2 separate regions of the Homo sapiens genome follow, and region 1 is linked to region 2. Evidence: fine-mapped QTL for protein levels in blood plasma. A gene starts in region 2. The other region holds a variant in brackets. All regions are shown on one strand. Distances are from middle to middle.

Region 1 (8,333 bases), 230 kb after region 2:
CCACCACGCCTGGCCAATCCTTGTTCTTATGAATCTTTCTTAAATGTGTATATAGCTAACATTTTATTTATTTATTTATTTATTTTTTGAGATGGAGTCTTGCTCTGTCACCCAGGCTGGAGTGCAGTGGCACGATCTCGGCTCACTGCAAGCTCCGCCTCCTGGGTTCATGCCATTCTCCTGCCTCAGCCTCTGGAGTAGCTGGGACTACAGGTGCCTGCCACCACGCCTGGCTAATTTTTTGTATTTTTAGTAGAGACGGGGTTTCACCATGTTGGGCAGAATGGTCTCGATCTCTTGACCTTGTGATCTGCCCGCCTCGGCCTCCCCAAGTGCTTGGATTACAGGCATGAGCCACTGCACCCGGCCAGCTCACATTTATTTCATTTTGAGACAGTCTTGCTCTGTCACCCAGGCTGGAGTGCAGGTGTGGTCTCAGCTCACTGCAACTTCCACCTCCAGGTTCAAGAGATTCTCCTGCCTCAGCTTCTGGGATTATAGCTGTGTGCCACCACGCCTGGCTAATTTTTGTATTTTTGTAGAGAAGGGGCTTCGCCATGTTGGCCAGGCTGGTCTCGAACTCCTGACCTCAAGCAATCTGCCTGCCTCAGCCTCCCAAAGTGCTGGGATTACAGGCACAAGCCACTGCACCCAGCTTCACTTTAATGTTTAATATTAGAAGTTGGTGGGGCATGGTGGTTCATGCCTGTAATCCTGGTGTTTTGCAGGGCCAAGGCAGGAGGATCACTTGAGACCAGGAGTTCAAAACCAGTCTGGGCAACAGTGAGACCCCAACTCTATTAAAAATTAAAAAAAAATTAGCTGGGCATGGTGGCACACACCTATAGTACAGGCTACTCAGGAGGCTGAGGTGGGAGGTTTGCTTGAGCCCAGTAGGTAGAGTATGCAGTGAGCCATGATCCTGTCACTGTATGCCAGCCTGGGCAACAGAAAGAGACTCTGTCTCAAAAAAAGATCAAACAAATAAACATACTACAACGTAACATAAATCAAAACAATGTGGTACTGGTATAATAAAGTTAGAAATACAAACCTATATATCTATATCAGTTGTATATGGGATTATTATACCATACCCAGTTGGCCATAGGTATATGGGATTATTTCTGAGTTCAGAAGTAATTCAGAGAGTTCAGAGTTCAGAAATAATCCCATATACCTATGGTCAACTGATTTTCTCCAAGGGAGCAAAGAGCATTAAATGGGGGAAATAATAGTTTCATCAACAAAATGGTGCTTGCACAACTTTTTTTTTTTTTTTTTTTTTTTTTTTTTTTTTTGAGACAGGGTCTTGCTCTGTCACTCAGGCTGGAGTGCAGTGGCAGCACCATGGCTCACTGCAGCCTTGACTTCCGAAGCTTAAGTGATCTTCCCACGACAGCCTCCCCAGTAGCTGGGACCACAGGTGAGTGCCACCACATCCAGCTAACTTTTTTGTAGAGATGGGGTCTCCCTATGTTGTCCAGGCTGGTCTTGAACTCCTGGGCTCAAGTGATCCTTTTGCCTTGGGCTCTCAATGTGTTGGGATTACAGGTGTGAGCCACAATGCCCAACCCCACAACAACTAGATACTCACATGCAAAAGTATGATGTCAGACCCCTGACCTCATACCATATGCAAAAACTAACTCAAAATGGGCCAGTGACACATAATAGATAGGGTCTTGCTCTGTCATCCATGCTGGAGTGAGATGGCACAGTCATAGCTTATTGCAACCTCAAACTCATGGGCTCAAACAATCCTCCTGCTTCAGCCTCCCAAGCAGCTATGACTACAGGTGTGCACCACCACACCCAGCTAATTTTTAAATTTTTTGTAGAGTTGAGGTCTTGCTATGTTGCCCAGGCTGGCCTTGAACTCCTGGCTTCAAACCATCTTCCTGCCTTGGCCTATCAATGTGCTGGGATTATAGGCAGAAGCCACTGTGCCTGGGCTAAAACTCTAAGAGAAGAAAACATGGGTAAATCATGACCTTGGATTTGGCAAACAACAGATATGGCAACAACAGAAAAACAGATAAATTGAACTTCACCAAAATTAGTTTTGTGCATCAGAAGACATTATCAAGAAAGTGAAAATACTTGCAAATAATATATCTAATAAGGGTTTGGTATCTAGAGTATAAAGAACTGTTATAACTCAACAAGATAAACCAATTCAAGATGGGCGAAGGAGTTGAATAGACATTTCTCCAAAGATATACAGTATCAACCCACGAGAAACAAAAAACATATATTCACACAAAGACTAGTATGTGAATGTTCATAGCAGCATTATTCAAACAGCTAAAAACTGGACACCGTCCAAATATCCACCAGTGGAAGAGATAAACAAAATGCGGTATATTCATACAATGGAATACTACTTTTGTGCTGTTTTACCCACAACACTTCTGACACCAAATGTGTGGAGTTTTGTTCCCACATCAACCTATTCTCCAACTCTCCAGACACAACTTGGTGTCCTACAATTCAACTCAATTCTGACACTAATACCCTAAGTTAACAGACCCCACAGATTAAGGGTTCAGTTCCATAAGACTGCCCCAATATTAGATGCCAGTCACAAGTTACCACCTGTACTTCTGACTAACTGGCTGTAAGGGGTTCCCATGACCCCCTCTTCAAGTTTGATAATTTGCTAGAACAGCTCACAGAACTCAGGAAAAATCTACACATTATGGTAGGTTATTATAAAGGATACAACTCAACAGAACAGATGCATAGGGCAAGGTATGGGTGCAGAGCTTTCATCCCCTCTCTGGGCATGCTACCCTCCCAGCACTTCAATGTGTTCACCAACCTGGAAGCTTCCTGAACCCCATCATTTAGGGGGTTTTATGGAGGTCTCATTATATAGGGATGATTGATAAAATCATTGGCCATCAGTGATTAAGTCAACCTCCAGCCCCTTTCCGCTCTCTGGAGGTGGGAGGCAGGTGCTGAAAGCTGCACTTTTTTTTTTTTTTTTTTTTTTTTTTTTTTGGAGACAGGTCTAGCTCTGTTGCCCAGGCTGGAATGCAGTGGAGTGATCTTGGCTCACTGCAGCTTCTGCCTCCCAGGTTCAAGCGATTCTCCTGCCTCAGCCTCCTGAGTAGCTGGGATTACAGGCATATGCCACCAGGCCCAGCTAATGTTTTTTTGTATTTTTAGTAGAGACAGGATTTCACCATGTTAGTCAGGCTGGTCTTGAACTCCTAACCTCAAATGATCTGCCCGCCTTGGCCTCCCAAAGTGCTGGGATTACAGGCATGAGGCACCGCGCCTGGCCCAAAAGCTCTACTCTCTAATCACGTTTTGGTCGTTCTGGTGACCAGTCCCCATCCTGAAGCTACCTAGGGGCCCCCAGTCATCAGTAATCATATTAGCATAGAAAAGACACTCTCATCACTCTGGAGATTCCATGGGTTTTAGGAGCTGCATGCCAGGAAAGGAGTGGAGCAAAGACCTGTATATGTATTTCTTATTGTATCATACTACTCAACAATAAAAATGAACATGCAACAGGCTGGGCATGGTGACTCACACCTGTAATCCTAGCACTGGGAGGCTGAGGCGGGAGGATCACTTAGAGCTAGGAGTTCAAGACCACCCTGAGCAACATAAGGAGACCCCATCTCTATAAAAAATATATATATATACAAAAAATAGCCTGACATGGTGGTGTAATCCCAGCTACTTGGGAGGCTGAGGCGAGAGAATCACTTGAGCTCAGGAGATCAAGGCTGCAGTGAGCTGTTATTGAGCCACTGCACTCCAGCCTAGGTGACAGAGTGAGACTCCATCTCAAAAAAAAAAAAAAGAAAGAAAGATAGGATAGATGTATCTCAAAAATTTATCTAAATGAAAGAAGCTTCACATAAAAGACTACATGTTGTGCTTTTCCATTAATATAAAAATTTCTAGGAAGGCCAGAACTGTAGAGGTAGAAAGCAGATCAGTAGCAGCTGGGCGTGGTGGCTAATGCCTATAATCCCAGCACTTTGGGAGGCCAAGGTGGGCAGATAACATGAGGCCAGGAGTTTGAGACCAGCCTGGCCAACATGGTGAAAC[C/G]TCGTCTCTACTAAAAATAGCAAAATTAGCTGGGCGTGGTGGCAGGCACCTATAGTCCTAGTTACTCAGGAGGCTGAGGCATAAGAATTGCTTGAACCCGGGAGGCGGAGGTTTCAGTGAGCTGAGATCGCGCCACTGCACTCCAGCCTGGGCGACAGAGCAAGGCTCTGTCTCCAAAAATAAAAAATAAAAAAAAAACAAAGCAAGTAGATTGATCAGTAGTTGCCCAGGGTTGGATGTGGGAACAGAGATTGACTGCAAAAGAGCACAAATAATCTTTTTGGGATGCTGAACATTAAGTTGTGAGTTGTGGGATGTTTACATAACTATACAAATTTACTTTTTTTTTTTTTTTTTTGAGACAGAGTCTCACTGTCACCCAGGCTGGAGTGCAGTGGTGGGATCTTGGCTCACTGCAGCCTCCACCTTCCGGGATCAAGATATTAGAGGCCAGGCGTGTAGGCCTGGCCTACACACATTTACTTTTAAAAATAAATAGCCAAACTATACCTACAGTGGGTTAATTTTATAGTTTGTAAATTATACCTCAATAAAGCTGTTAATAAACAAACCACAGAAATGACAGCAGGATGAAAAAACCAGTGTCCTAGCCGGGCACGGTGGCTCACACCTGTAATCTCAGCACTTTAGGAGTCCAAGGCGGGCGGATCACGAGGTCAGGAGATCGAGACCATTCTGGCCAACATGGTGAAACCCTGTCTCTACTAAAAATACAAAAATTAGCCAGGTGTGATGGCGCACGCCTGTAGTCCCAGATACTCGGGAGGCTGAGGCAGGAGAATCACTTGAACCCAGGAGGTGGAGGTTGCAGTGAGCCGAGGGCACGCCACTGCACTCCAGCCTGGCAACACAGAGAGACTCTGTCTCAAAAAAAAAAAAAAAAAAAAAAAAAAAAAAAAAAAAAAAGAAAGAAAGAAAAAGAAAAAAGAAAAGAAAAGAAAAGAAAAGAAAAAACAGTGTCCTGAAATCTGAATGTCTTCCTGGCCTTTGGATCCAGTCAGGACTGATCCACGTGCCTCTCCAAACTCACCCTCTCATCTCTCCAGCTAACCCAGGTCCCCACATAGACCTAGCACCCCCAGAGGAGGAAGGAGCCACCCTGCACTCCCCTTGTCCTTTAACACTCATTGTCATTCCTTGTTCAGAGTCTCCACTGCTGGACCTTCAACACCGAAGGGCAGGGTGTGCACCTGCACTGTTTGCCACTGAATCTTGCACGGGACCTAGTACACGGGACATGTCTAAATGCTTGCTGAGTCAAGGAATGAGACTGGCTTAACCCAAGTCTCATTTAAGGAATAGAGGTGGCCGTGGAGTGCGTCTGTGGAGAAGGCTGGAGGAGACTGGGGTAGAACTCCTTCCATGTTACCTTTCAGAATCAGAGCCCGACAGGGGTGCAAGGGAGGGCCTCTAGCCCTGAGCACAGAAATTCGTCTTTATCTGGAGGAGCAACTCTCTCCCAGGCAACATCCTGCCTTATTACAAAGAGTCCCCCTCTGCAGGCCCTCCAGGCCCACCCCAGCTGGCTCATGTTGCCTTTCCCCACCAGAGAGCCTAGGCTGGGCATGTCTTTGGGTCTGGACAGTAATACAACATGGGGCAGAGGGTCCTGGCATCATCAAGCCCTGATTTCTCCTCATGCCTTCTCCCAGGAATCGGAATATCTCTGCATCTTTGCCTCTCAGAAGATCCTTGCCATTCCTGCTCGGAGCCTTTCTCTCAAGTTTCCACCCTCCTTCCTTATTCTCCTGGCTTCCTTGGAAATGGGTTTGCCCTCTAGCTTTGAGTGGGGATGGACAGGCAAGCAGAAGGGGCTAAGCCTAGGTATAGTATCTCAGCAGAGTGGGAGGAGCTGGAAGTCTGTGGCAGTCAGGGAGAGCTAGATGGGGCTAATTTGGAAGGCCGGGGGCTGAAGAAGCAAGTTGATCCACACACCCAAGCCAACCTTGACTCACAGGGAAGTGACTTCAAACAGCTTTCATAACTCCATCTGGATGTTGGCCACCTTTCCTCTCCTAGCTCTTTGGTTTCAGGCCACGTGCTCCCTCCAATTGTCCCTTCTCTCATTTATAACATTAGAGAGAACAGGGCCTGGATGAAGAATAACAAGATCATCCGGCTGTTAAGAGCACCGAATCTGGAGTTGGAGCAAGTGTTCATGTTGGCTCTGCTAATTTGCTGCATGAGCCTGACAGGTCACTATATTCCTCTCTGGCCTCAGCTTTCTTCTGTCTTTAGTGAGGGGATTGGAATAGGTAAGGTGCAAGACCCTTTCTAGTGCTAAAATTAAGGGGCCCGGCACAGTGGCACACACCTGGAATTCCAACACTTTGGGAGACAGAGGCGGGCCAATCACTTGAGCTCAGGAATTCAAGACCAGCCTGGGGAGGCTGGGCACAGTGGCTCACGCTTGTAATCCCAGCACTTTGGGAGGCTGAGGCGGGCGGATCACAAGGTCGGGAGATCAACACCATCCTGGCTAACACGGCGAAACCCTGCCTCTACTAAAAAAACAAAAACAAAAAATTAGCCGGGCGTGGTGGCTGGCGTCTGTGGTCCCAGCTACTCAGGAGGCTGAGGCAGGAGAATGGCATGAACCTGGGAGGCAGAGCTTGCAGTGAGCCGAGATCGCACCCCTGCACTCCAGTCTGGGTGACAGAGCAAGACTCCATCTCAAAAAAAAAAAAACACCCAGGCTGGGCAACATGGCGAAACCTCATCTCTACAAAAACAACAAAAAACCAAAAATTAGCCAGGTGTGGTGGTGTGTGCCTGCAGTCCCAGCTACTCGGGAGGCTGAGGTGGGAGGATCGCTTGATCCTGGGAGGTTGAGGCTGTAGTGAGCCAAGACTGCACCACTGCATTCCAGCTTGGGTGACAGAGTAAGACCCTGTCTCAAAAAAAAAAAAAAAAATTAGGTGCTAAAATTATAATTCCTTAAGAAGTCTAAGTATTGGGTATTGTGGAGAAAAGCTATATAAAGGTATGGCTGTAGACTAAGGACTAGAGTCGAATGAGACTCTTTCTGAGAGTCCTTTCTGAGAATGGGCTTGACATTCCCAGGTACAGCTTTGCCTTCTTCTCATCACTTCCAGGATTGCTCACCTACTTGGGGCCAAGGGCCCCCCAGGAAGCCCTTCTTCATGCTGTTTTATTTCACTCTGTAGGGATGACCTGCATTTGCACTGGCTTTGGAACCAAACAGACCTGACTTTGAGTCCCAGATTTTGCCACTTAGTAGAACGTGGATGGGAAGATATAAACAGCATCTCCCTCACTACGTTTTTCTAAGGATTACATAACTGTTCAACAAATGTCAGTGACTATAGTTACTTCACAGACGGATAGCTCAAAGCCCAGAATAAGGAGTAAGAAAACTGGGCAGAGCTGGATTGAGACTCCTGGGATCTCCTCTCCGTTCACTCATCCCTACTCCTTTGTTAAACTGCCCTCTCCACTTTCCTAAAATTTAAGGGCAAAGCAAGTTGTCCCAGGCACCTCTTAATGCTTGTCAGAAATCCCCCCTACTTCAGATGAAGCAAATTTCTTCCAGTCAGCATCCTTAACTCTATACCACCACCTTGTGGTCACCAGCACAAACTTTCCCTGGCCACTTCCAGAGGACCAAGGTTGGGAGAGGAAGAACCATGAGTAGCTGCCATCCCAGTCCTTGCTAAGTGCCTTCATGTGCCTTACTCCATTTAATCCTTATTACAGGTGGTGAAACTGCTACTCAAAGACATGGAATAATTTGCCAGCCTCTCAGGTGGCGCCAGGATTTCTACCTCAGACCTCAGAGATCCTGCTTCCTACTGCACTCTCCTGATAGCTTCCTGGGAAGCTGGCTGGCACGGCACTTCAGATTCAGGGACTGCCTGATACTGTGAAGTCACAAACCCAGTTAACTGCAGAGCCAGAGCCTTTTTTTCTTTTTTTCGAGACAGTCTCTCTGTCGCCCAGGCTGGAGTGCAGTGGTGCCATCTCGTCTCACTGCAACCTCTGCCTCCCAGGTTCAAGCAATTCTTGTGCCTCAGCCTCCTGAGTAGCTGGGATTACAGGCGCCCACCACCTGTTCGGCTAGTTTTTGTAATTTCAGTAGAGACGGGGTTTCACCATGTTGGTCAGGCTGGTCTTGAACTCCTGACCTCGGGTGATCCACCTGCCTTGGCCTCCTGAAGTGTTGGGTTTACAGGCGTGAGCCATGGTGCCCAGCAGAACCAGAGCTTTTCTTGACTCCC
Region 2 (8,323 bases):
TGGTGGTGACACAGCAAGACTCCATCTCAAAAAAAAAAAAAAAAAAAAGTAGAACTACCATTTGATCCAGCAGTCCCACTACTGAGTGTCTACCCAGAGGAAAAGAAGTCATTATACCAAAAAGATACTTGCACACTCATGTTTATAGCAGCACAATTTGCAATTGCAGAATCATGGAACCAACCCAAATGCCCATCAATCAACGAATGGAACAGAAATTGTGATAGAATAGAATACTACTCAGCCATAAAAAGGAATGAATTGGCCAGGCATGGTGGCTCACGCCGGTAATCCCAGCACTTTGAGAGGCTGAGACAGTCGGATCACAAGGTCAGGAGATCAAGACCATCCTGGCTAAAACAGTGAAACCCCGTCTCCACTAAAAATACAAAAAAAAAAAAAAAAAAAAAGTTAGCCAGGTGTGCTGGCAGGCACCTGTACAGCTACTCGGAGGCTGAGGCAGGAGAATGGCGCGAACCCGGGAGGCGGAGCTTGCAGTGAGCCGAGATCACGCCACTGCACTCCAGCCCGGGCGACAGAGCCAGACTCCGTCTCAAAAAAAAAAAAAAAAGGAATGAATTAACAGCATTTGCAGCAACCTAGATGAGATTGGAGACTATTATTCTAAGTGAAGTAACTCAGGAATGGAAAACCAAACATCGTATATTCTCACTGATATGTGGGAGCTAAGCTATGAGGATACAAAGGCATAAGAATGATACAATGGACTTGGGGACTTGGGGGGAAGCGTGGGGGAGGGGAAGGGATAAAAGACTACAAATAGGGTGCAGTATATACTTCTTGGGTGATGGGTACACCAAAATCTCATAAATCAGCACTAAAGAACTTACTTATGTAACCAAACACCACCTGTATGTACCCCAATAACCTATGGAAAAGAAAAAGTATATCAGAATTTCTCTAGGAAATATGTATTTCCAAAAAGCATATTTGATAATTTTACATGTACAAGATGAAAAAAAAAGCTTTTGAGATTTCAAAAAGTATTTAAGGAAGGTATGAGATTTTATATATTTACCAAAAGGGGAACATGGATTTAAAAAGATTGAGGAATTTCTACAAGTTTACGATGTTACTTCCGGTAGGTACTGAATAAGTGGTAAGTACACAAAGAAAAGTGGCAGATTCAAGTTCTATTGTTGTAACTGGACTAAAAATAATTTTTTTTTTTTGAGGTGGAGTTTTGCTCTTGTTACCCAGGCTGGAGTGCAGTGGCGCGATCTCGGCTCACTGCAACCTCTGCCTCCCGGGTTCAAGCGATTCTCCTGCCTCAGCCTCCCAACTAGCTGGGATTACAGGTATGCCCCACCATGCCTGGCTAATTTTGTATTTTTAGTAGAGATGCGATTTCTCGATGTTGGTCAGGCTGATCTTGAACTCCCGACCTCAGGTGATCTGCCCGCCTCGGCCTCAACAAAGTGCTGGGATTACAGGCATGAGCCACTGTGCCCGGCCATAAATATTTAACTGTACTAACTATTGAGTTGTAAACATTTTCAAAAGAAAACAATTTCTTAGTTGACACTTTACCAAGTTTGAGCAGTGATGGATTTAGGGGCATTCATCTCAACAAAGAACTTGGGGGCCACGTTAAATTTCATCTCAACAAGGTGGAACCTGTGTTTCCTGGATTGTGAAACACAGGACTTGATCCAGGGCAAAGGTCATAATTTGATCCAGTGTGCAAATGTGTCTTTTTTAGTCAGCATAGTTCCGTTCCTTTCTTTTTCTTTCTCCTTTCTCCTTTTCTTTTCTTTCTTTTAATCTCTGTCACCCAGACTGGAGTGCAGTGGTACAATCGCCACTCACTGCAGCCTACAGTCTCGACCTCCCAGGCTCAGGTGAATTCTCCCACCTCAGCCTCCCAAGTAGCTGGGACTGCATGCATGCACTACCACGCCCAGCTAATTTTGTATTTTTTGTAGAGATGGGTTTTCACCATGTTGCCCGGGCTGGTCTCGAACTCTTGAGCTCAAGCAATCCACCCACCTTGGCCTCCCAAAATGCTGGGATTATAGGCGTGAGCCACCATTCCCGGCAGTATTTTCTTTTCTGTTTTTTTTTTTTTTTTTTTTTTGTGTGTGTGTGTGTGTGTGTGTGTGTGTGTGGTTTGGTTGTTTTATTTGTTTGTTTGGTTGGTTTTTTTTGCACGTTCACAGTATTTTCTTTTTCTTTTTTTTTTTTTTGAGACGGAGTCTCGCTCTGTCACCCAGGCTGGAGTGCAGTGGCGCGATCTCAGCTCACTGCAAGCTCCACCTCCCAGGTTCACGCCATTCTCCTGCCTCAGCCTCCCGGGTAGTTGGGACTACAGGCGCCCACCAGCATGCCTGGCTAATTTTTTCTATTTTTTAGTAGCGACGGGGATTCACTGTGTTAGCCAGGATGGTCTCAATCTCCTGACCTCGTGATCTACCCGTCTCAGCCTCCCAAAGTGCTGGGATTACAGGTGTGAGCCACTGCACCCAGCCAGTATTTTCTTAAAGTTGTAATTAGTGGCCAACATTTAAAAATCAGATTTTAGGCCGGGTGCGGTGGCGCACACCTTTAATTGCAGCACTTTGGGAGGCCAAGGTGGGCAGACTGTTTGAGCCCAGGATTCAAGATCAGCCTGGGCATCCGAGATGGCAAAAACCCGTCTCTACAAAAAATACAAAAATTAACCAGGTGTGGTGGCACACTACTACAGTCCCAGCTACTGGGGAGGCTGAGGCAGAAGGATTACTTGAGTATGGGAGGTTGAGGCTGCAGTGAACTGGAATCACACCACTGAACTCCAGCCTGGGTGACAGATTGATACCCTGTCTCAAAAAAAAAATCAGATTTCAAATAAAACTATTAATTTCCAATTTGTCTTGAAAAATGGAAACACTCGGGCCCACATGTAACGGGTGGAGTAATGACTGCCCCCTTTTGACAAGTCATGCCTTTTCCAGCTTGTTATAGTCCATACCACTTTCTATTACTTGCCCCACCTCCTCATTTATACAGCCACTGCCACGTCTATTTCATATTGATTTGTTAGCAACCTGGTTTTGTAACTTTGTTTTCTGCTTCTTGGCTCATCAGAGAATGAGTAGCTACAGAATGGGTCAGATCAGGCTATGCCTCAGGGCACAAGATCCTCATTTGTTTCTCATCAGTGAGGCCCACAACCCAGGTATCCATTTTATAGTTGGATGAACAAAGAAAAGTAATGTGCACCAGGGGATGTAGCAAGTCAAGACCGAGTCAAGGCTAGAACCCAGGACTCCAGCCTCCTATCCACTTCAGAATGATTTTCAGTACATGACACCACTTCCCCATGAATCGGAGGTCTCCTATATGCTTGGCTTTAGCAGGCCCTGAGCAATGATATTTTCCACCCCCAAAGCCCTCTGTTGGTCTGTGCTCTTGAAGAGCACTTGGCTCTACATGGTACCTCCTAGATGACTGTTTTATGGATTTTCAATGAGGCTACTTAACCAGATGTCATTGCTGTCAAGTATTACTGTGGAAAATAGATCTGTCACCAACACTGCTTCATTAAACCATTTAATGAGAAAGGTGTTTAATGTTTTCCCCTGATCCTGACATGCAGCCATAACCTTTAGGATTAGTGAAATTTCCTGGGCAGTCAAATCAGACTGGTGATGTCTTGCTGCCCTGACTTACTGATGTTGGCAGGTGGACAGACCAGGGTTTTTCCTCCTTCCTTCCATATCTGTCTCAAGGCAGCATTTCTACAGCACTGCGTTGTGGACTGAGGTCTCAGGGCAGTGTGGTGGTCTCTCTGTCTCAGGAGTCCCTCCATTCAGTCTCTGGGCAGGAGCCGCATAATAAGATTCCACACACCCATACCACTCACGAAGGCCATGGGCCTTCCAGGGATCTCGGATCCCAGGCTGTTCTTCCTTGGGGGAGTGGCCTGGTTCTAAAACCAGGCCTTGAACTACATCTACAAAACATCTATTGTGGATTATTTATTATCCAAGGGGCAAGCCACTGTGCTAGACGGCTTGCAAGGCCTGCTATTGTAGAAGGTTATGAAACAAGTCAGTTTTAACGAACTTCTTTTTCTTCACCTGTACCTAGTTTCTTCCTCAGTCCTTAAAGCAGATGGAAGAGTTAAAGCCCACGTGGAGCAAATGACACTCTGTTTCTGATCTGATTCTCCCCGCCTCTTAGAGACGCTGTCTTGGTAGTGACCTGGCTGTGGGTTGTTCTGTGACTGTGTAGACCTACCTCAAAAGAGGGAAGAGGGGGGAAAAAGGGGCGAGGAGGAGATGCTTGGGTGGCCAGGCCATTGCTGGCACTCAGTCTATCTCAGTTCGTACACTGTGTTAGGTGTGACCCCAGCCCCTTGCAGGCACCCTGGGCTTCCTGCTCCAGTTCCCCTTGTTCGGCTCGGATGCACCGGGAGGCTGCTGCGCCCTCTCCGGACAGGTGCCCCGGGCCTCGCCTACACCTCACCTCCCCCTCCCACTGTACCCCCGGCCGGTGCGCGCTCTGACACTCACCGGCTGCGAGAGGCAGCGGCGACGGCGGCAGCAGCAGCAGCAACATCAGGACTACGGGCGGCAGCGGTCGCGGGTTCAGGGGGCGCACCATGGCGAGCTGTAGGCGCCGGGCTCCGCGCTCCCCTCGCTCCTCCCCTGGAGCTCTGAGAGCGGGGCTCCCTCGACCGGCACCTCCCGCCCCCGCCTCCCGCCCTCCAGCGCGACGCACACACTCTCCCACCAGGGTCCTGGGCGCCGCCCTCCAACTCCGAAGCGCGCGTCCACACCACGCGCCTCCAGCGCTGGTCCGAGGGACCGCGGGGGTGGGGGCGGGGGAGGGCCGGCGCCCCGGGAGCCGCCGGGCTTGGTGCGGAAGAGGTTGCTCTTTCCGAGGCGGCCCACCTGCTGTCTGACAAGTTCGACTAGCAAGACATTGTGGAAGCTGCCGCTGGAAACTCGCCATCTAGGAGAACCAAATATTTCTCCAAGAAAAGCACCCTTTCTCACTTTCTGGATCCCACTCACCCACACATCAAAGAACAGACACCACCACAAAAGAGATTTTGTAACAAAACTTGAACAAGCCAACACAAGGGCACTTGCATTTCTAGTATTTTTCTTAGAATTTGCACATCTATGATCTCGTTTTTTCCTCTCCTAAGTGTCTTCTAGGGTAAGATTGGGTGGTTATTAAGCTCAAGATGCTGCAAAGATGGGTCGCAGACAGGTGGAATGGCTTTGCTGGGGGAGCAGACCTGGGGCATTAGATTCCAAAATTCAGCCCCGATGGTGTCGTGAGGGAAGATGGAAGATTAAACTCTCCACTAAATAGCAGAGATTTCCTTGGACCAAAGCTCACTGAGGAAGGTGCCTGGAGAGACCATTTAGGAGCCCATCCTTTTCACATGATGAGACTTTCGGAGAGCAAGCTACTCTATCAGGATTAAACAACTAGGTAGAAACACATCTGTGCCCAGAACACAGGACGTCTACCCATAAGGATAAGGGTATTTATTGGGCCTGGGCCTGATTCCCACAAGATCCCAGGATAAAGCCAGAAGCAGAATGGCTTGGAAGAATGAGAACTAAGCAGCGCATAGAAAGAGAGAAGGAGAAGAGGGTGATGAAAGGAAGTGGAGGGTTTCATCCCCTAACCCTCTAACTTGACCCCCTCCTTACTTCCACAGCCAGCCTGGCAGAGGGCCAGCAGGGAGTACTGAGAATCGCAATATAAACCTCTGAGATTTATTGGCTGCTGCTTCTGAATATGGCCATCCTGCTGTGGCCTCTGGGGGGCATTTGCCGATGTAATCAGCCCAGAAAGAGAGTCATTCCAGCTGGGGGTGTAAATCACCCTTGGCAAAGCTAGGAGAGAGACATGTGGCCCTAGATAAGGAAGGAGACTGATGTGGCCTCTGTGCCCTTCCCTCCCTTCTCCTGCCCAGGGGGTGCTGGTTCCTGAGCTGTAATGCACTTTAAATGGAGTTTGTCCTTCGTTTTAATCTATATCTGCCCTGCCAGTTTTACAGAAGAGCTGTAAAAGTGAACATCTGGCTACTCAGCTTTTGTACAAGGCCTGTTTTCCCCCAGCTCCACCCTATCTCCATGTGCCTTTCCCAAGCCCTCCTCTCCAGAAAGGTGAGGGAACATGAAGCTGGGGGGCTACCATTAAAGGCCCCATGATGTCAGGCCCTCTACCCCATTGCCAGAGAGAAATATGCTCCAGGCACCTCATTTTCTCTCACACCTGCTATTACAGGCAGACAATCGTTTTTTGGGTTTTTTTTTTTGAAACTGACAATACTTAAGAAAGGAATTTATAAAGCAAAATGTAACAATTTCAGGCTCTTTGGGATGATAGGAAAGGGCTGAGACCCATGAACCAACAAAGATGTGAGGTGGTCAAGGGGTGTCTCCTCTGCCCTCCCCCTCCTCCAGCCCAAGCCAAATCATGTTATGGGCAGGAAGAGGGTTTGGGAAAGGAAGTTTGCTCAGGGTGCCTACTCTGATAGATACTCAGTGTCTATTCCAGGGCTGTCCCCACAGAATAGACCAAGAATGCAGTATCAAGCTGACGGGCTGGGAGCAATGACCAATCCCACCTGTAACAGGCCAGCCTTTTCATGAGAGAAAATAAAGTGTCTGGTGCATATTTCTGTCTGGGTACAGGGGTGGAGAGCCTCATATCATTGGGCCTTTAATGAGGATTGGAGAAGCTCTGCAAATAAATATGACTCCAAGACTAATATTGACAGCCCTCCAGCACACCCTCTCCACCAACCATGTCCTCTGTGACTGCCAACACCTGCTAGATAAGCAGCATTGCCCCTTGTGGACAATGACAAATGAGCCAGTCCTTTCTACAGAGATGATGTTACTCATCCATCATTCAATTCAATAATGTGTTTTGAGAATGATTATGAGCCCAGCTTTATGCTAGGTGCAAAATGATTAAGACACAAATCCTGCTCGGGGAGGGTGTTACAATCCACTGATTGCAACTCAAATGCCCAAAGACCCTGTATCTTATTCCACTTTCACTTGTAATCTCAATTTTCTCCTCTTATGGTCAGATTACATGGATTCTACCTTCTCTCAAGTCCTCTCTCTCTCCATTGAGCTTTAATTCCTGCTGCTATCCTAATCCAGGATGTTAGCAGTATAATAAATAGTTAAGACCACAAGCTTTACAGACTGCCTAGATTCAAATGCCGACACTAGCTGGATGACCTTGGGCAAGTCACTTAATTTTTCTGTGCTTCCATTTCTTCACCTGTAAAATTAAGGATAATAGTATCTATTTCACATTGTGAGGATTAAATGAGTATAGTATTTAAATGAAGGTGTAGGCTGGGCGCGGTGGCTCACGCCTGTAATCCCAGCACTTTGGGAGGCCAAGGTGGGCGGATCACGAGGTCAGGAGTTCAAGACCAGCCTGGCCAATATGATGAAACCCCATCTCTACTAAAATTACAAAGATTAGCCGGGCATGGTGGCACATGCCTGTATTCCCAGCTACTCGGGAGGCTCAGTGGGGCAGAAGAATTGCTTGAACCCAGGAGGCGGAGGTTGCAGTGAGCCAAGATCATGCTATTGCACTCCAGCCTGGGCAGTAGAGCGAGACTCCGACTCAAAAAAAAAAAAAGAAAAGAAAAAAAAAGGTGTAGCATTATACCTGGCATATAGCAAGCATCGAATAAATATCATCCCAGGTAGCATGCAGGAGTTAATTATTCTGTGTGTGAACTTGGCCAGACCCCACCACCCGACCTGCTGATTTGGAGCTGGAAGTGGCACTTTTTGCTCCTTTTGCTGAATATACTACTAGACCAGAGTGCTTGTAGGGATGGAAACAAAAAGAGCCATTTTTTATTTTTCTACCTTGTCAATTTCTTGAGGGCAGGGACTGTGTCATATTTTAACAACTGTGATACTCAGAATTGGCAACTCCAGATGCATATGTTTAAAGGAATTGGTGTTTCCTTAACCTATGCCTGAACAGAACAGGGAGAGAATCCCCCATGCCTCCTACTTTATACTCCTGATAAAGAAAGGGAAATATTCCTCCTTAATATAGTTTGGATATTTGTCCCCACCCAAATCTCATGATGAAATGTAATCCCTAATGTTGGAGGTGGGGCCTGGTGGAGGTGTCTGGATCATGGGGGTGGATCCTTCATGAATGGCTTGGGCCATTCTCTTGGGGATAAGTGAGCTGTCACTGAGTTCACAAGAGATCCAGTCATTTAAAAGTGTGTGGCACCTCCTCCCATAACTCCCTCCCTCTCTTGCTCCTGCTCTGGATATGTGACATGTCTGCTTCTCCT

Alleles and levels. Positions count from the first base shown, and alleles are read on the strand shown. Strength reflects both the effect of a copy and how common the allele is.
With allele G in place of C in region 1, the plasma level of the protein whose gene starts at base 4,805 in region 2 is lower (weak association).

What was found. A credible set is the group of variants that fine-mapping cannot tell apart. PIP is the posterior inclusion probability: the model's chance that the variant is causal. The UK Biobank Pharma Proteomics Project read protein levels with antibody pairs (Olink). The fine-mapping took linkage between variants from a reference panel, not from the people measured, so its PIPs are less certain.
Region 1: its variant is the best candidate, but not a certain one, in a credible set for the plasma level of the GFRA3 protein (UK Biobank, PIP 0.57).

Annotation. Positions count from the first base shown.
Region 1 is chr5:138,496,261-138,504,593 of GRCh38, forward strand. No RefSeq gene overlaps it. Among named protein-coding and RNA genes, the nearest start is that of EGR1, 35 kb to the left of the region's middle. The variant C/G (reference allele first, on the strand shown) is at 4,075.
Region 2 is chr5:138,269,817-138,278,139 of GRCh38, forward strand. It overlaps GFRA3 (GDNF family receptor alpha 3), which reads right to left and starts at 4,805. Exons shown (of 8, transcript NM_001496.4): 1 at 4,518-4,805. The coding sequence starts at 4,608. RefSeq lists silencers at 4,528-4,717, 4,808-4,897.